2 separate regions of the Homo sapiens genome follow, and region 1 is linked to region 2. The links come from fine-mapping of genetic effects on gene expression. A gene starts in region 2. The other region holds a variant in brackets. All regions are shown on one strand. Distances are between the middles of the regions.

Region 1 (5,364 bases), 80 kb before region 2:
ATCATGGACAGTGTTTTTTTGGACAGAAATTTTGAAGGATGTACCTGGTCTTCCAACATCTAAAATCCTGCCCATCAAGATAGATTTCCCTGATGGGACCCTGTCACATGTTCATGGTCACTTAGCTTGCTGCTTTACCTTGGGTTCCATAAGTTTTTTCAAACCCATGTGTCTTTATCTGTTACATGGCATAATTGTTCTTAGGTGGCGTTGTATGGATCCGCCGAGATCAGACAGCTCCGAGCCAAGAGTCTGATACACAGTAGGGACCTACCAGACCCCAGGATCCTCTGCCGCTCCTTCCTGCATGAAGCTGCCTCTGACGGCTCTAGCTCACACTTCTCCATCAGGGCTTCATTGCCTGTGGCTCAGTCTGTCTGTCTCCGGTGGTGTGAATATGTGCCATAACCTACCTACCCCCATGGGCCAAACTCTCACTTGAAAAATGACATCACATGTTTGCCTCCAGAAGGCCTTCCCCCCATCCTCTCTGGCCCTCAATCCCAGCTAGCGCTGAGCTCTGACACCCCTCTGAAACCCCTTAGTCCTTATGAAAGAAGAGATGATATGACAAAGTTAGGCCAGAAAGGACAGGGTGGGGAAACAGAGAAGCTGAAATAATAGATATATCAATTGAAATTATCCAATCTGAAGAGCAGAGAGGAATAAAGAAGATTGAAAATAAAGCCTGGGGGGAGCTGTAGGGCAATATCAAAAGGTGTCCCAGAAGGAAAGAGAATCAGACAAAAAGAAGAAATAATGGCCAAAAGTAGCCAAATTTAGGTTGGGTGCAGTGCTTCACACCTGTAATCCCAGCACTTTGGGAGGCCAAGGCAGATGGATCACTTGAGGCCAGGAGTTTGAGACCAGCCTGGCCAACATGGTGAAACCCCATCTCTACTAATTTTGTAAAAATACAAAAATTAGCCAGGTGTGGTGGCACACACCTGTAGCCCTAACTACACAGGAGGCTGAGGCAGGAGAATCACTTGAACCCAGGTGGTGGAGGTTGCAATGAGCCATGATTGTGCCACTGCACTCCAACCTGGGTGACAGAGCGAGACTCCATCTCAAAAAAAAAAAAAAAATAGCCAAATTTGATGAAAGACACAAACTTATAGATTCAAGAAATTCAGTGAACCCCAGGCAGGACAAATACAAAGAAAACCACACGCCAGAGTCAAGCTGCTTAAAGTCAGAGAAGATAATGAAAGTAGCCAGAGAGAAATAATATACCACATACAGGGGAACAATAATATAATATTGCTTACATCTAAACATAAGCAACAGAGGCCAGGAAGCAGTGGAAGCACGGCTGTAAAGAACTAAGACTGCTCACTGAAAATTCCATATCCAGAGAAATTATCCTTCAAGAAAGGCAAAACAAAGACATTTTCAAATGAAGTAAAACTATAAGAGAGTTCATTACCAGCATATCTACACAATAAGATTACTGAAGGCTGCTCTGTCTGGGGAGAAGGACACCATATGGAAACTTAAGTCTTCAGGAAAGAAGGCACATCTTGGCAAACAAGTAGGGTAAATATAAAAGATGCAGGGGTGGGAATCCTACTATATCTCCATATAGCTCACCTGTAGAGCTGATACAAAAAAAGCCAGCTGGAATGCTGGAGAATAACAGGAGGTTGTTGGAAACTTCTTATTAAGTGGTAATGTTCCACATGTGATATATTTACTGGAAGAAATCACCATGGCATTTTCTGGGTCAAAAACTGCATACCAGGTGCCAGGGTCCCCCACCCTGACTTCTGTTCCTGCTAGTAAAAATAAGCAGTTTGCCTTCACGGGGCTTAGACAGCAGTACACTGGTATGTCCTGTCTCAGGCTTATGTCAATTCTCCTGCCGTCTTACTACAGCATGAAAGAACTTGATCATTGACACACCATAGTGTTTCTCACTGGTCCACTGCATCGAGGACATCCCTTGGTAAGACACGTGCATGAGAGAGTATGGGAGATGAACAGCGCTGAGGTTCAGGGGTCTTCCCCATTAACACATTTCCTGTGGTCCCAGTGGTCTGGGGAACAGGACCATTCCCTCTCAAGTGAGAGACAAGTTTCGGGACTCCCAAGGCCTTCTAGGAAAAAGAAGGTGGTACAGGGTATCCTCCACTGTCCTATTTAGGCGTTCCCAGCCACACCCTGCTCTCTACCCTGGGAGCTACATCAAGGGTCCCTTTGCCCTCTGGTTTCCAGTTGGGTCCATCCAATGGACAGCCCCAGTAGATCAGAGGAAGGGAAGAGGAGGGCGACTTCGGCAACTAGCCGCATCTGTCAGCGGGCTTACAGCAGCTACTCTCTACAAGTTCCAGGAACTGCACCCTTGGCATGTTAATAGCTCTCCACTGGTGCTCCACATACCCCTCATTGCTTCCCCCCAAACCTGCCTACGTGTTCGAGAAGAATTTATAAATAGCCCATTTATTAATCATTCAGTGTGAGAGTGCTATTTCCTGCAGAGACCCTGTTACACTATCTGTTTTCCCCTGGTCTGCTTAACAAATGTGCTTATGATAGAACACTGCAGGTACTGTGTACAAACAGGCCTGCGAATATTAAGTCCACATGTCAGATGTTCCCAAATACCTGTACAGAACACACATACATGGCATCTATGAAGACTTCAGAGTACACACAGTGTACACTTGGAACCTAATGTGTAGAATAACGGCACATGTGACATAGTAGCACACTATATACAGATAGATTAGACCAAGAGGCACATATAACTACAGCGCACCCATATTCACCAGCAAATATTGTCTATGCAGTGTGTGCGCCTGTAGAACACACATGACACAGGCTGTGTATGTGCCACACCTATGTATATGCTGCAGACTGCACGTTTTAGTAGTACACACCATGTCTACAGATTGTATGTAGAAGATACAATAAAGAACATAGAAAATGCATGTATGCTGGACACGTGACACAAGATGGCCTCTAAGCTCTTCCCAAGAGGAGAATGAGGTACAAATCTAATACATTCCCCCAGCACCTGTGTGACAGCTCAAGTCCTGAGAAACCATTTTTTTCCCATCTGCAAATGAACATATCCCAGCATCACCCGCCCAGGGGTCAGAAGATATATTCATTCATCTACTCATACATTACCCATTCAGATATCTCCATTGACTGTGCCCTGGGACCTGCTCTTGGCACAGGGGATTCCACAAACACTTCTTTCCTGGAAATCTCCCAAGGG[G/C]CTCCAGCCAGCCTGTACCAGGAGCCCTGCCCAGTGCCCAACACGAGCAGGTGCGGATAGAGGCTGGGGCATGGATGTGGAAAGGCCACAGGTGACCCCTAGGCTGTCTGTTCCTGGTTACCTCCTACCCCACCTGTGAGCTCAGGAACCACACATGCCCAGGTGGATTTTCCCTCTAGGACTCCAGGCTCCTACAATACCCTACCGCCCCCTCCCCCTACCCTCCAGGCACTACAGGGTGGTGACCTTCTCCATCTCTGAGGACCACAGAGGTGGCAGAATCTCAGAAGTCCCACCCACCACTGGCCACGCTTCCCTCATCATAAAGGGGTCACTTATCCCTTTGGCAATGAGACTTCTGAAATGGATCTGCACAAAATTCAGGAGGGACACACAGGGCACTAAAGGTAGAGATAATGAAACCAGGACTCCCAGAGGGGCGCCTCCGACTGCGGGTGAGATCTAGCCAAGCAGCCTCAGTCACTCGAACCACTTCACAGACGTGTAAGATGAGGCTGCAGGAGGGTTGCCAACCCACAACCGCCCCGCAAGAGGCCACATCATCCTTACCTAACCCGATGCCTGGCACCCCCTACAGGCACCCAGCCAACAGCAGGGCCCTAAGCCAGAGCCCCACCAACTGAGGAATGCAAAGACCACACACAGGGTACAAAGCCCCTGCACACAAGGGACGCAGCCAGCCCACGCTGCTCATCTCCAGAGCTTCACCGCCTGTTTTGCTGACATCTAGGGGGATGCTGAGTTAGACACGCCTGCCTTTGGGACCTGGTACCGGTCCAGATGGTCACACGGAGTCAGGCCTCTGGGTGTGAGGTTAACCATAGTGGTGCTGGTGACAGACAGCACTGACAGCCTGAAATTTGGTTTCCAGCACTGCTCACACAGCAGCAGCATCCCCAACACCATCCTTCCCAAGATTCCAGGATGCCGGCATGTTCAGGGACCCTGGAGGGAGCTTACAGTCGGTTCCAGTTGAGTGGCTGTCCCAGCTTTCTCAGCCCGGCTGGCCCCTGCATCACTCAGTGCTTTAGGCTCCAGGGTCCTGCTCTGCCCACCCACCTGCCCTCCCCTGGCCTGCTCAGCTTTGCCAACAGGTGGTAGTGCCCAGGACCAGGCAGGGTGGGTAGATGTGAGTGGTGAAGGAGATCCAGGAAAACCCCCAGCTCAGCCCAGCCCCATGTCCCAGCACATGGAACCAACCCCTCGAGTGGCAGCCCCACCCAGGGGTCTGGAGCATCCTAGGTCACCTGCTAAGTGAAGCCAGCCCTAGAAGAGAACCTCCAGTTCACCCGGCCCACCTCCACAGTCAGAGGCAACTGACACCCGGGGGCCGGTGATGCCCAACTCGACAGGGCAGGCCGGTGACGGGGTTCCTGCCCTACAGATCTGGAAAGGGGACAGTCATTGTAAAAATGTCAAAGCCCACTTGGAAAAGCTGACTCTGTCCTGGGCACTGTGACTCCTGAGCAGACTCTGCGCTGTGCACTATGACTCCTGAGCACCCTGGGAGGACCCCTCTACTTCCTCATCTGTGAAATGGGGCAGATGATGTGCATCAGAGCACAATGAGAATCAGCCCCCTCACCTGGCCCCTCCCAGAACTGGCCAAATTCATGGGTCCCCTCACCGAGAGCTGGGCCATGCAGCCTCTGAGCCGAGCCCCACCTCAGGCTGGCGTGCAGCCCTTGGGGGTCAGACCTTCCAGCCCCCAAGTGCCCATGTGGATCTGTAGCCAAGGACGTCTGGGCCCAAGGGAACTGACAGCCTGCCTGCTTCCACAGGGCCTTCTTAGCCGGTTACTAGGTGCCTCTCCCAGCCCCGGACCCTGGTGGAAGGCTGGGGGCTCCCAGGACAGCACCCACAGGCTGTACTCCTCACCTATCCAGACCCTGACTGGCCCTGCTGGGTAGTCACAGCCTGGGTCACCTTGGGCCAGACCGTGAGCTCCCGAGGAGAGCAGAGCCCACTCCTGACTCAGCTGTGCAGATCCCAGAGCCCAGCATGGAGGAGAAGGCAGCACATGGTATCTCCTTGCTGTGCAAGTGACTTCCATCTTCCCAGGCCTGCCTGGAAATCCCAGCCAATCCCTAAGCCCAGGGCCCAAGGTGGCTGGGGGC
Region 2 (5,364 bases):
GGTTTTGTTCTAGGCCTAGGAGCATCTTAATTTGCATTTATATTAAAAAAAGAAAAAAAAACAAACAGAATTAACTGGAAAGGTGCTTTGTTTCCTGTAAATTTGAACTCTTGTGCTAAACAGCTTCTTAGGGCAGAGAGCGGAGGCTCGATCAGGCTTCGTCCAAGAGCGTGGATTCCGTTCCTACTAAGTGCCGGCCACACTGTGCCTGGCAGCTGCAGCCCGCGGGATCTCAGCTGGACCTTAAAAGTCAGCCTGTCAGGTAGTTATTGTGAGACATCTCTTCTGCAGGTGGGGAAACTGAGGTCAGGAGTTGGGAAATGACCTCTCTCTGGTCTTTACACTATGGCCGAATTCAGATTCCAAGCCAGGTCTGTGGGTTCCAAGTTGAACATCTTTCCACAACAGGACAGCTGTGTTAGTGTTAGAGCTGTCTTTTATTCACATACACATACACACACACACACACACACACACGCGCGCGCGCGCACACACACACACACACACGCGCGCACACACACACACACACACATTTTTTTCCCAACCTTTCTTTCCAGAAAATCAGTGGAAAGCCCAAAGAAGGAAGCGAGGAAAATCAGCGAATTCCTCAGATGGCCTCTGGTCCCTTATTCATACAAGTCCCACAGCCCCTGAGGCGAAGCCGACACCCTCCATTTAGCTACACTTCCCTTGACAGCTTCTCTTTGGAGTTTTAACCGTTACAGGCATACACCCAGAGCTACCAATCAGAATCAACCATGGAAACACACCTCAGTAAGAACTTCATCAGTCTCCACAATGCATTTCTTAAGGAAAACTGGCACATTTCAGAGTTTGCTTTTAACACCAATCCTCTCCTCGATGTTGTCGCTCAACTCTCGGGATCAGCCAAGCATTTTATGTGCCTGTTTTACTACTGGAAGCCAGCATGCTAGCCAAATTCACCTGTCTTCCATCTTCAACCCTAAAGGCATGTTTAAGGGCCTTGGGGCTTTCTCCTTTCCCCAGGGGTGGCCAGTTTCAGAGGCATATTTCTTACTCTCCAGCTCTCCAGCAAACAGGCCCCTGTCTCCCAGAATCACTGCCCTGTGCATCTGCGTGCCACTGCCACAGTTTAAAGCCAGAGAAAATGGCAATGACTGGCCCTCTCAGAAGCTGGAAACACAGTGTGGGAAGGGAAGGAGTCATCTGTGTTTGGGGTGCTGGGCAAAGGGCGTGGGGCAAGCAAGAGCCAAGCTGATTATGTAGATAACAGAAGGACAATTTCCTTCACAAACAGAAAAACCTGCACCAATGAATTAAACATTTAAAACAAGATGACTCTCTAAAAAGTATTTTCAACCAAGAAGGAAAGACAGGCCGTCCTGTGCTGGCGCTTCCTGTTGCATATGGCACTGAGAAATCCTTTTTTTTTCAGTATGCAGAGATTTCCAGACAAAGAAAAATATCAAGAGGGAAATTAGAGGAGGAGGTCCAGAGAAGCGAGACAGGAGGAGCTGGGAAGAAGGGAGGGGGGAAGGAGGAGGTCCCTGCCCAGGGCACAGGGGTGTGAAGCCCTGAGGGGTGCAGGAAACAGACCACCCCCACTAACACACTGGCCTTGGCAAGTCCAAGGAGATGGCCCTAGAGAGGCAGCCTGCCTCACTGGGGCAAGTGAACCACAGAGACACCACCCTGCCTCCTGCCATGCAGGGTATCCACCACGTCCACCCGAATGAAGGTACCTGCCCCAGCTCCCACAGGTCTCCAAGTATAACGTCCGGGAGTCCTCCCAGCCCCCAGCCTTAGAGGGGACACTGCCCTCGGGACCGACCAGAGACCCTGCTCTGTGAATAGCGCCCTTGGCAGTGGGGCTGGCGGGCATCCCTGCAGTTTACCAGCTGGACCCCCTCTCGTGACTGGGGCTCAAGTTCCCTGGTTTCTGGGCAATGTCTAGACTGGCCTTTCCCAGTGTCACAGCCTAGGGAGTGGGCAGGTTCTGCCCTGCCCCCACTCTCCACCTCTACTGAGAGCAATTGAGGGGCTGCCACCCCCAACGCAAGCACCAGAGAGCAAACTCTCTCCTCCCAGGGGCCTGGGAAGTCCAAGCTCCAGAACTGGAACTCAGGGGAAAAAAGGAGCCGGGCGGGGGGAAGAGAGATGAAATCTGAGCTCAGAGAAGCCTGGAGCGGGGCCCAGGGGCTACGGAGGGTCAGTGCCTCTCACGCCCCAGGCGCACTCCCCTGCCACCTGAGTCCCTCTAGGAGCCATGGGTGCCAGGCCAGCCCTCTCCAACTCCCAGAGAGGTAGTAAGTGTAAGGCTCAGAGCCCCGCGCAGCCCAGCCCGCGCCGGGGCGGTGGGTGGGTGGGTGTCTGCTATGGGATTATTCTTAGCGCTCCACTCTCTTCGCAAAAGTGGCGCCTCCGCCCTCCCGGCTCAGGCACACTCGCTCGGGGCTCGCACGCCCGGCCCAGACACCAGCGCGGTGGAGAGCACCGGGTGGGGTCCCCGAAGGGTGAGGCTCGGAGGCGCCGCGGAGGGGGGGCTCCCTAGAGAGGAGGGGGCGCTGCGGGAAGGCCCCCAAGGGAGGCTGCGTTTAACCCTCGACGCCCTGCACCCAGCCCGGCGCGGCGCGCTCAGCCGCCTCCCCGGACTCCTCCCGGGGCGCGGGAGCCCAGCGGCGCGCCCAGCCCTTACCTATGGTGGTGATGACCGTGATCGCAAAGTAGAAGGAGCCGGCGAATTTCCACTGGACGCCGGCGCGGTGCGGTTCCGACTGCAGGATCACCAGCTCCAGCTGCCGGTAGTCCTCGCTGCTGATGTTGTACTTCCCCTTGATCCGGATCTCCTCGGCTTTGAGTTTCTCCTCCTCGCGCATCTCGTGGTCCGACTCGAGGGCGTCGAACACGGCGGCGCCCACCAGCAGGTAGGTGAAGGTGCAGACGATGAGGGACAGAGTCCGCACGTTCTGCCTCTTCATGGCCGCCAGCAAGGAGCCGGCGCGGGGGGCATGTCCCGCAGGCTCACAGCCGCGCGCGTCCCACTGCAGCGCCCGGCGGCCGCCGCCGCCTCCTCCTCCGCCGCCGCCGCCGCCGCCTCCAAGTTGTAAGCGGCGGCGGCAGCAGCAGCAGCAGCAGCGGGGAGGCGGGGGGCGGGGAGGCTGGGGGGGGCCCCCTCCGCTGGGGCCGCCACAGCCACCGCCACCGCGAGGCGGCTGGCGGGGCAGGGGCGGCGCGGGCCCGGGCTCAGCCGAGAAGGCGGACAGGCACAGGAGGCTGCTCGAGCGCCGGGGCCAGGCGTCCGGGAACCCCGACACCCTGCGCCAGACCCGGCCGAAGCAGCCCGCCCCACTGCGCAGGGCCATGCAGGGCGGCCCCGCTGGGTACCGCGCGGGCCTTGCTGCCCTCCGCACCCCGCCCCCCGCTCCCGCGGGAAACGCAGGGACGGGAACCGGAGCCAGAAAGCGGCCGGAGGGCGGCCGCGGGGCCCGGTACCCCTGTGGGTCCAGCTCGCGGGTGGCGGTGCCCAGCAAGGAGCCTGCAGGTCCGCGCGCCCAGCGGAACCTGCTTCCCCTTTTACCCCTCCTCGCCCCCTCTCGGTGGTGGGGAGGAAAAGTTTGCGAAGTGGCGGTGTCTCTGGAGTCCCCTGCAAGCGGGGAGGGGGCCGAGCAGGTGCAGCGGGAGGGGCAGCCCGCTCCCCAAAGGTCCGCGCGCCCAGCGCCCACCCGGGCGCGCGGGTGCGCAGCGGGGTCCCCGCCGGGCGTCGGCCGGTGCGCGAAGTTTGCTCGGCTCAACCCCCAAGGCGCGGGAGCGGGGCGCGGCCCCAGGACGGCAGGGACCGCGATGGAGCGGCTTCGGGGGCGGCCGGGGGACGGCGCGGTGGCGGTCGGCCAGCCCGCTCCTCCGGGGGCGGCGGGCGCGGCGGCGGCGGCGGGAGGGGTCCCGCGGGCCTCGCGGAGCAGCGGGGCGGACGCGGGCGCATGAGCCGCGCGGGGGTCGGGGCCCTCCGGCGTCCGGGCGTCCCGGGAGGCGGCCGCCGCGCTGGTCTGCCCCGGGCGCTACGTGCGTGCGCGCCGTTGGGAGCCCGAATGTGTGTGTGCGCGTGTGTATGTGCGTGTGTGTGTGTGTGTGTGTGTGCGCTTGGCAGCCCCGCTCCGGCGGGAGGGCCTCGGGGAGCGGGGGCCGGGCTACGCCGAGGCCGGGCCTCCCTCCCTCCCTCCCTCCCGCAGCCTCCAGGGCGCGCCACCTCCCGCCTGGTCCCCAGCCAGCTGGCGAGGCTGCTGTGGCAGCTCCCGCTGCAGACCCAGCGCGGCGCAGGGCGCACGCGGAGGGAGCCCGGGAGGGGCGGCCTGAGCCGCCAGGGAGGGGGCGGGGGCGGAGCCGCCGGCGGGTTTTGGCGGGGGATGGGAGGATAAACGCGGCTTCTTGGGTCCTTCTAGCCCCGCTCCCCAAGAGCGCAAGCAGCCCTGGCGGGTGGAGAGTTTGAGGGACTCGGGGTTGGAGGAGGAAAACGGGATTCAGCCAGAGATGGCAGGCTGACAGCTTCAGGCAGATTGGGCAGAGAGTGGGGAGCAGAAGGGGAGGGGGCCATGGGCACACAGGAGAGCGGCAGCAGCGGTTCACGAAGTCTTCCCCACCCCCCACCCCCCACCTAGCCACCCGGCGCGGGAGCGTGTCATTGGCCAGGGACATGGCCTCGTGGAGTGGTGGGGTCCCGAGGGCTGCCTCGGCCCCCTCGCCTCCCAGCGGCACAGCCCGCTTGGGCCAGCACCTGCAGACCCGAGTCGTTTCCCTGGAGAGCGCTAAGGACAGCATGGGCCGCCACTTTTGGAGTCAGGACAGCGGGGAAAGACATCGCAATCCCCCGACCCAGTAACCTCTCTGTTGCTTTACTGAAGGAAAAAAAAAAAATACACACACACACACACACACACACACACACACACACACACACACATATATATATATATATATATATATATAATCACTCTTTGATATATATAATCACTCTTTGGTTCCCCACAGCTGGGCGCAAGGTGCGCCGTGGATGCAGCCCTGAGCCACGCGATAGCCCCCTCGAGACCACCTGGGGTAGGAACACGAGGCTCGGGCTGGGGCGCACCTATTCCCTGCTTCCAGATGAGCCCTCTCCAGGCTTTATCTCCTTCCCATTTTGGCCTCCTTTACCTCCTCCCCCTCCCCGCCCTCTCCCTTTAGGCTATCGAGGGGCTTTTCCTTGACCTTCGGCTTCCTGAATCCCGCCTGGAGCCCTGGAGCTCCAAAAGGACAGACCCAAGCCTCAGAGACCCCTGGGCTCCTCTTCCTCTCCTGACCCCAGCCAAGGAAGGGATGGAGATGGGAAAGAGTTGCCTGGCGGCAGGCTAG

Direction of the effects. Alleles are on the strand shown, and positions count from the first base shown. SD is a standard deviation of normalised expression in the study named.
With allele C in place of G in region 1, the expression in cerebellum of the gene that starts at base 3,091 in region 2 is lower (small effect, 0.27 SD a copy in GTEx).

Evidence for each region. PIP is the estimated chance that this variant, and not a neighbour inherited with it, causes the effect. A credible set is the group of variants that fine-mapping cannot tell apart.
Region 1: its variant is the best candidate, but not a certain one, in a credible set for the expression of KCNK9 in cerebellum (GTEx, PIP 0.69).

What each region holds. Positions count from the first base shown.
Region 1 is chr8:139,620,219-139,625,582 of GRCh38, forward strand. All of the region lies in intron 1 of KCNK9 (potassium two pore domain channel subfamily K member 9), which reads right to left. Among named protein-coding and RNA genes, the nearest start is that of KCNK9, 80 kb to the right of the region's middle. The variant G/C (reference allele first, on the strand shown) is at 3,227.
Region 2 is chr8:139,700,033-139,705,396 of GRCh38, forward strand. It overlaps KCNK9 (potassium two pore domain channel subfamily K member 9), which reads right to left and starts at 3,091. Exons shown (of 2, transcript NM_001282534.2): 1 at 2,678-3,091. The coding sequence starts at 2,960. RefSeq lists a silencer at 2,814-3,108.